2 separate regions of the Homo sapiens genome follow, and region 2 is linked to region 1. Evidence: fine-mapped expression QTL. Tissue or cell type: whole blood. Region 1 holds a variant in brackets; the other region holds the start of a gene. All regions are shown on one strand. Distances are between the middles of the regions.

Region 1 (4,241 bases):
ACTAATTTTTAGTGATCTGGGCCTTATTTTAATACCTAAAAGCCAAATCAAAACAAAGAAACAGAATACTCTATCCTTTAATCTCTTTAATTCACACATCTGTCTTTTGTATAAAAAGGTGTTTTGGTGAACCCACGTTGCTACACCAATGACATTCCACAGTATTAACACTAGAATGACTGAAGTCACATTCATGAAATATACAGGAAATATCAATGGTTCATGAACTGATTACTCTTCTGGCAAGTTAGGGTTGGGTCTCATATTATCAAACTAATTACGATTTTTAATGCCTACTAAAACTCATACTTAATAGGAAGACAATCTATAATTAAAACTGTCCCTTGTTAGGTGGAGAGCAAAGACTTATTCACACTGAATCTCCCATGCCTTGTATAGCACTAGGCACAGAATGGCATTCAGTGTTTTGAGAATGAATGAATGGTCTGCCTCTTGTCTTTGATAACAGTGAATATCATGCTAGGAAAACAGGGGCATGTAACTTTTACTTATCAAACTCTACGAGTTGCACTGAGAATACTCAATCATGAGCATTAATTTGAGAACAGTTAGGAATGAAAGTGGAGTCTCTGGGGCACTTGCCTCTGTTCATGGCCTCCTGTGCAATTTTAGCCAAATAACAGCCTTTCCAGGCCTAGGTTTACCTATCTTTTAATATTACCGGATTTTACGCTTTAAAAATTCTATAAATTACTACCTATTTACAAATCTAGATTAACTGTGACAGATGGTATGTTTAAGGAATTACTTTTTAAAAATCCTTTTTATTACTCTTTTTTAAGAAATGCAACAAGAGCCTTACAAACCATCCATCTGAAGAGCAAGCACAAAGACCGGATATTTGTGGTGCCACCGCAGTTGCAGAAAGGAATGTCAGTCAGAAATGAATTGTGTTTCAGTCACTCTGCATGGTTGCTGCCACGCATGGAACATTTTTAGGCCAACTTTTTAAAATTCCCAGTTAAGGTAAGCAGGAAATTAGATGATCTTCATTAAGACTCCATGGGTGTATCTGAGCTCCTGCTGCCAAAAGGGCCACTAATAGATGAATTTCTTGCACTCCCAAGAACAAGCCTCTCTCGTCTTCCAAATGCTTCATTTACTAAAATACAAATAAACAGGTAAGAAACTAACAGATCAGGAAATTAAGTCAGAATATAAAAAGACACTAAAATGCAGAATTGTGCACTTAGTACTTTATAAATGGTAAAGTGAGTAACCAACTCAGAAGTCCAAGTTAATGTTCTGAATGAAGTGAATTATTTTTTTAAATGGTCCAATTTATTTTTGTACTTTACTTTCTTTGCCATGTCTTGGATTTATCTGATCCGCCTTGGTAACAAATGTCCCATTCCTTATAAGTGACCCTCTCCTGGCCTTATTCTACTTCTGATTGCTTCCTATTTTTTTCTTTCACTTTTCTCTGATCATAACCGGCACAGAACTTTTCGGACTTAGGACTCACACACATCAGAATAACCCAGAGAAAAATCTCAGGATCCTTGTTTTGCATGGGAGGGAGGATGCAGGAATCATACAGTGGGGAGATATATATATTATCTCTGTGTTTGTAGAACGCACCAGACTACCTCAAAGTAATAAATAAGCAGCCAGGATCCCCTGAAGGGAGAGGAGTGGCCCCTTCCGGAAAGTTGGATTTTGTAGAATTTTATAGTTGAGCAAACGGTGGATTTATTCACACTGGTAACTGTGGGGGAGAGGGCTGTTTGTTGAGACCATGCTATATTTCTTTCCAGCTTTCCCCAAAGATCTTTCAATTTTAAGATATGTATTTGTTAAATTGCTGGGAACAAGCCCCCCAAAATCTGGCCATAAACAAAATCTCTTCAGCACCGTAACATGTTCATAATGGCCCTAACGCCCAAGCTGGAAGGTTGTGGGTTTACGAATGAGGGCAAGGAACGCCTGGCCTGCCCAAGGTGGAAAACTGCTTAAAGGCATTCTTAAGCCACAAACAATAGCATGAGCGATCTCGATCTGTGTCTTAAGGG[C/A]ATGTTCCTGCTGCAGTTAACTAGCCTAACCCATTCCTTTAATCCGGCCTATCCCTCGTTTCCCATAAGGGATACTTTTAGTTAATTTAATACCTATAGAAACAATGCTAAAGACTAGTTTGGTGTTAATAAATATGTGGGTAAATCTCTGTTCGGGGCTGTCTGCTCTGAAGGCTGTGAGACCCCTGATTTCCCACTTCACATCTCTATATTTCTGTGTGTGTGTCTTTAATTCCTCTAGCGCCACTGGGTTAGGGTCTCCCCAACCGAGCTGGTCTCGGCCTTAAATGATCTACACTTAAAAGTGTGAAGACAAACTTATTTGTGAACATGAACAAACATTACCAATTACATCTGATCTTGTCTCTTTCCTAAAAAGACTACACTACTTTTGCTATCTTCCTGATGTAGTCAGGACACACATTCTGCACTTGGTCTTAGCCAAAATGCTGAGAAACAATTCAAGTCACACATTCTGTGTCAGTCCTTACAGAACTCATTCAGAAAGAGGAGAGGCCAGCATGATGGCTCACACCTGTAATCCCAGCTATACAGAAGGCTGAGGACCAAGGATTGCTTGAGGCCAGGAGTTTGAGACCAGCCTGGGCAACATGGTGAGACCCTGTCTTTTTTTTTTTTTTTTTTTTTACAGGGGCAGGGGGAGGTGTGCAGAGAACTAAAAATCCTTACCTGAAGAGACTGTGCTTATATCCCAGACCCGAAGCCCTTCTTTTTGACCTCCAAAGGCATAAATAAATGGCAAATCAGGGCAACATGAAGAACAGAAGAGAACTCCCTAGAGAGAGAACAGGAAGATGGTGATTTCAATCTCTTCAGAAAGCGCTAATATCTAGATCCTCACTGTTGTCTCTAAGAATCTATGATTTAAATGGTTATTCAAAACCAACTTATGATTCTCACTTTCAAGCCTACTGCAAAGGTAGCTCAGAGTCAAGTCAGAAGGGCTAGTACTACAATATGAAGCCAGACAAGCGCAGCATGCTGGTTCTTCCACAATGATATCTGCAACTTCTGACCACTCAGGCCACTCATCTTCGTTATCACTCTGTCTCTTAGGGATTTCCTAACAAACCTAATGTGCCATGTATTTCCAGAAACTTTAGCTGTCCTTTTAAACAATAACAATGATGCCAGTTTAAATCATTTTTAAACTTTGTTTTCTTTTTTACATTTTTATTAATAGGTAATATATATTTGTTATAGAAAATATGAACAAGAAAAATATATGAAAATCTCTCAGGGAGGTAACCACGGTTTATGTTCTGGGATATAATCTACTAGAGTTAAATGTAAGCATTTAGGCAATTATGCACTTAAAAATAAGCATGAGATGGTACTACAAAAATTGCTTCTGTAACCTGTTTTTCCATTATATTTATATATATTTATTCATACACAATTTTCAACAGCTGTGCAGTGTTACTGTGTCTGCAGTCTAACTTATATAACTCAGTGGTTGGCATACAGTAGGTGCTCAGTAAATATTTCTTGAGTGAATCTGGTTATTTCTAAATTTTTCCTACTATATAGTAATTTGTTTCAGTGTAGTCAGAACTAGTTATGCAAAGAGATAAAGATACATAAACTGACCCTAATAGCTACGGTGCCCTGAGGTTCAAGATTTCTTGGGATGGTCTTGATTTCAGGGTTTTAAAAAAAAAAAAAAAAAGCAGCCATTTCACTTGTGTCCTAGAAAACCCTCTCCCCAGCCTTACCAAGCAACTGTTAATCATGTGAGTTGGAAAAGAACCAGTCACTGAATTCCCCACAAAGCGTTCTAAGTCATAAAATCCCACCAAATTTGACTAAACTCAAAATTCACTTCCCCAACACATCCATATTTGTTAATGCAATAGTTCCAACAGAAAAACACGCAACACAAGTTCCAGAAAAAGACAAGGTCAGAAACAGAATAAATAAAAAACAGATACCCAGGGAGATTCTTACCATTTTCATGTCCCTAGAATGAACTAGACTTGGCCTATCTCCTAAGATGTCCCAGATCTTCACGTATTTGTCAGCTGAAGCAGTCACGAGACAGCCCTTGATTTGACTGCTAAGATCAAGACCTAAAGGAAGATAAGTTTAGACACTTTCGCTTTGAAATACAGATTTACTTCATCATAAGTTAAGAAAAATGAAAGAAGCATTACTCTTGCTCACCAGAGATTTCATCATTGTGTGCAT
Region 2 (4,241 bases), 25 kb after region 1:
TTTAAGAGATGTGGCATGGTCACAGCTCCCTGCAGCTGTGAACTCCTGGGCTCATGCGATCCTCCCACCTCAGCTTCCTGAATGACTAGGATTACAGGCACGAGCCACCGCAACTGGCTTGTCCAATTTCTCTCATTTGGTCCAAGTTTTCCTTTCTAGGATTTCATAAATTCAATCTCTTTTTCCTATAAACTCTTCAAATAGTGGTTCCCAGACTTATCTGTACATCAGAATCACCTAGGGAATCTTAAATAATTTAGGCTACACTACAGGCTAATTACAACACAATACTTGGGAGTGGGACATAAACATCAGTATTTTTTGAACCTCCCCAAGTGTGAGATTTTCAATGTGTAGATTCATTTGGAAATCAGTCTTCAAGTATTTGAAAGGCTATATGTCTCTTTTTAATAACTGTTTCCTCCAACAATTTTTATATGAAATAATTTTCTGTCCCTATTCTATAAATGTAACACCGAGTGCCTACCATCAACCAAACCCTGGAGAAACAGTAAATAAAACAGTCTGTGCCCAGGTGGAATTTACAACTACTGGGACTACTCCAATCCGTCATTCCTGTTAACTCCATGTCCAAGCCAATCACATTCCTATCACCATCATCATTATCTTGGTCAAGTACATTCAAATCAACCCCTTTTACTGTTTGGTAGAACTTAACTCCCACTGACATACTATATGTGCACATGTCGACTCCATAAAGGCAGGGTCTTTTTCTATTTTTTTTTTTTTTTTTTTTTTTTTTTTTTTGAGACGGAGTCTCACTCTGTTGCCCGCCCAGGCTGGAGTGCAGCTGTGCGATCTCGGCTCACTGCAAGCTCCGCCTCCCGGGTTCACGCCATTCTCCTGCCTCAGCCTCCCGAGTAGCTGGGACTACAGGCATCCACCACCACACCCGGCTAATTTTTTGTATTTTTAGTAGAGACGGGGTTTCACCGTGTTAGCCAGGATGCTCTCGATCTCCTGACCTCGTGATCCGCCCGCCTTGGCCTCCCAAAGTGCTGGGATTACAGGCGTGAGCCACCGCGCCCGGCGGGACTTTTTCTATTTTGTTCATGCCTATCCCAGGACCCTGAACAATGCCTGGCCTACAGAAAGCACTTAGTATCCAATGAGGAAATTACTTAAGTAATCGTCACCTCTGCTACAGTCTCAGTCTCCAACTCTTGTAGGTTTTTCATGTGTTAGACATTTACCTCTCATCCTCCCTGCTACCATCAACATCTCACTTGGATTACTGCAAGAAATTCCCTATTCATCTCCCAGCCTCACGACATCTTAGCCTCCACACCAGTTTTTCTACACCACATTCATCCTCACTCCTTCAGACACGGAGCACAAGAGTGGAAAGTGGAGTTTTCATGCTCTCTTCCCAGTTATGCTTGAAAATGCACTTGGGTGCTAGTGAAGCTAGTGGTGTTGTCAAAAAGCCTTTTGGGGTATTACCCACCAAAAACAGCAGCCCACCCCTTTCCGGCCCGCTAAGTCCATGTGCGTGCGAATTTGGGAGTGGGGTTGGGCTTGAGGGTGGGAACAGTGAGAAGGCGCGGCCCTTGACTCTCCAGGCTCAGGCGAACCAGACCTTCTGAACTGCAGCTCTAGTCGCGACAATCCGGGCAAAGCCGCCCTCACCCCAGCCAGTCGCACCAGCCAACGCCCCGAGTTCCGGGTCCACGTTCCCCCAGCTGGGCGGACCCCCAGTGCCGTAAAGACGCTGCTCCCCTTGTCTCCCAGCGACCAGGCCTCACCTTGTCTGGTGTCTCTTTGGCCACGCCGCAGCGGACCCAGGCCACGCACGTCACCTGGCGGCTGCGGTTCATGGTCCTCAAGTCAAGGGCGTGTCACGCTAGAAACCAGGCTGCATAGGGAGGGACCACGACCGCACTGCTGCCACACGCTCAGGGATCTGCACAGGGCCGCTGCCAGGGCAGAGCGCATGCGCAGGCTCCTGTTTGGGCAGCGTCGGCGCTCATTTCAGACGTCATTCTGAGGCGCCGAATGAGAAATAGGAGGGGACAAAATGGAAGCGGAAGCAGCCGGGCGAGGAATCCACGTGGGCTGGTCTGGGCTGTGTGAAGTATAGAGAAAAGGCTTTTCAGGACTGCATGTGACGATGCCTGCGGGCTTTGTAAAGGCCAAGAAAATATTTGGGACTGTAGGGGTCAGTCAGAAGCAAAGTTTCACCAATCTTTATTTTGCTTGCAGTTCCGTAGACTTCAAGCTGACAAATGGCAGAGGTTTGTGGTTTGCGTTTTTTAAAAAGCTTTCTCCAAAATGAATTTGTCGTTTCACGGAGATCCCACCATTACATCTCATTACATCCCTAAATGTTACTTTCTCACCTTAAAACATTTAGCACCAAAAAAAAAAGTGAGAAAAAAACATTTAGCACCAATTATATACTAACTATGCAGTAGTGATTTAGTCTTGGCAAACACAAAGGGCTTACTTATGTTGAAGGCGCTGTTTTGAGTGCCGTATCACGTGATTACTTACCCCTTTGTGGGAGGTCTTATTTCCGTTTTACACCTGGGAAAACAGCGATCCTTCCAAAGGTCACACTGCTAGTAAGCGGTGCAGCTGGGATATGAACCCGGGCAGTGTGACTCCCTTGTATCTATGTCATGCTTCTCAGCTAAGATCAGTCATCTGTTAGAACTCGTGAGTGGCTGGACGTTTGTAGAATGGAAAATCTCAAACTAGCATCCCAGAAAAATCTGGGTTTTGATCTCTTGGCTGTGTGGCCCTGTCCTGGTCATTTACCCTCAATGCATCTACCTCTGAGAGAGGCAAGCAAAAGAAACAGGAAGGTGGCTGCTATGGGGAAACAGTGGCAAGGATAAACTGGCAGTACACATGGTCTTTCCCAGTGGCATTGTCAAACGGGGGGTGTCCACCTGTGGGCTCTATTCGGGGACCTTTTTGCAACACATTTATCTTTCTATACAGTATTTTACTTGGTTCTCACAACACTTTGTTTTAAAGATGAAGCTAGAGTCCCCAGTAGTCAAATACTTTCCTACTCAGATCACACACAGAGGAGCTGATACAACTATGAGTTCTGTCACCAACTCTACTCAGCCTAATGCGCTTGGCAATCTCCCTGCCTGAGGAGAGATCCTCCCAGAAGTAAATTGCTCATTGTTTGTGTAGGCAGATTATTTGTCCATTAAGACTTCTCCCCCTGCTCTGTTTCTGTAAGATGATTCTTCTGTGGTTTCTTTGCTTTTAACCCATTTTAGAAAGACCATATGGCAGATAATATTTTTCAAGGATGGCTGCAACAATAGAGTCCTTCACACATGTTTGTCTGCAACGTGATCTTGATATTCCTCCATCAAAGCACCCCCCCCCGCCCCCACCAACTTGAATCTGGGTAGTTGTAGGTCTGCTTTGGCCAATAAAGTATGACAGAAATGATGTTTCCAAGGTTAAGTCATAAATAGGATGCAGGTTTTGCTTCCCCACCACCACACCCACTTCTCCACTTCCACACCCCCCACCCACTCCCCCACTGCCCACCAGTAGAACACTAATGTTTGGAGCCCTGAGCCACCATATAAAGTTTGGCTACTGTGGTAGTCTGTTCTCACACTGCTAATAAAGACATACCCAAGACATGATAATTTATAAAGAAAAAGAGGTTTAATGGACTCACAGTTTCAGTTGGCTGGGGAAGCCTCACAATCACTGCAGAAGGCAAAAGAGAAGAAAGGCATGTCTTACATGGCAGCAGGCAAGAAGAGAGCATGTGCAGGGGAACTCCCCTTTATAAAACTATCAGATCTCAGCTGGGTGCAGTGGCTCATGCCTGTAATCCCAGCACTTTGGGAGGCCGAGGCAGTTGGATTACAAGGTCAGGAGTTCTAGACAAGCCTGGCCAACGTAGTGAAACCCCGTCTCTACTAAAAATATAAAACTTAGCCGGGCATGGTGGTGCATACCTGTAGTCTCAGCTACTTGGGAGGCTGAGGCAGGAGAATCACCTGAACCCAGGAGGCGGAGGTTGCAGTAAGCCGAAATCGCACTGCTGCACTCCAGCCCGGGCAACAGATCAAGACTCTGTCTCAAAAAATAAAAATAAATAAAAATAAATTAATTAATTAATAAAACCATCAGATCTCATGAGACTTATTATCATGAGAAAAGCACAGGAAAACGCCGCCCGTATGATTCAATTACCTCTCACTGGGTCCCTCCTATAACACATGGGGATTATGACA

Evidence for each region. PIP is the estimated chance that this variant, and not a neighbour inherited with it, causes the effect.
Region 2: it holds the start of PWP1, and the variant in region 1 is fine-mapped to the expression of PWP1 in whole blood (INTERVAL, PIP above 0.99).

What each region holds. Positions count from the first base shown.
Region 1 is chr12:107,708,993-107,713,233 of GRCh38, reverse strand. PWP1 (PWP1 homolog, endonuclein) reads right to left here. Exons shown (of 15, transcript NM_007062.3): 12 at 4,218-4,241; 13 at 4,002-4,123; 14 at 2,724-2,829; 15 at 72-1,123. The coding sequence ends at 1,014. LOC124903010 (a long non-coding RNA gene) reads left to right here. Exons shown (of 2, transcript XR_007063446.1): 2 at 804-852. Among named protein-coding and RNA genes, the nearest start is that of PWP1, 25 kb to the right of the region's middle. The variant C/A (reference allele first, on the strand shown) is at 2,034.
Region 2 is chr12:107,683,497-107,687,737 of GRCh38, reverse strand. It overlaps PWP1 (PWP1 homolog, endonuclein), which reads right to left and starts at 1,939. Exons shown (of 15, transcript NM_007062.3): 1 at 1,767-1,939. The coding sequence starts at 1,838. RefSeq lists enhancers at 1,601-1,650, 1,871-2,130.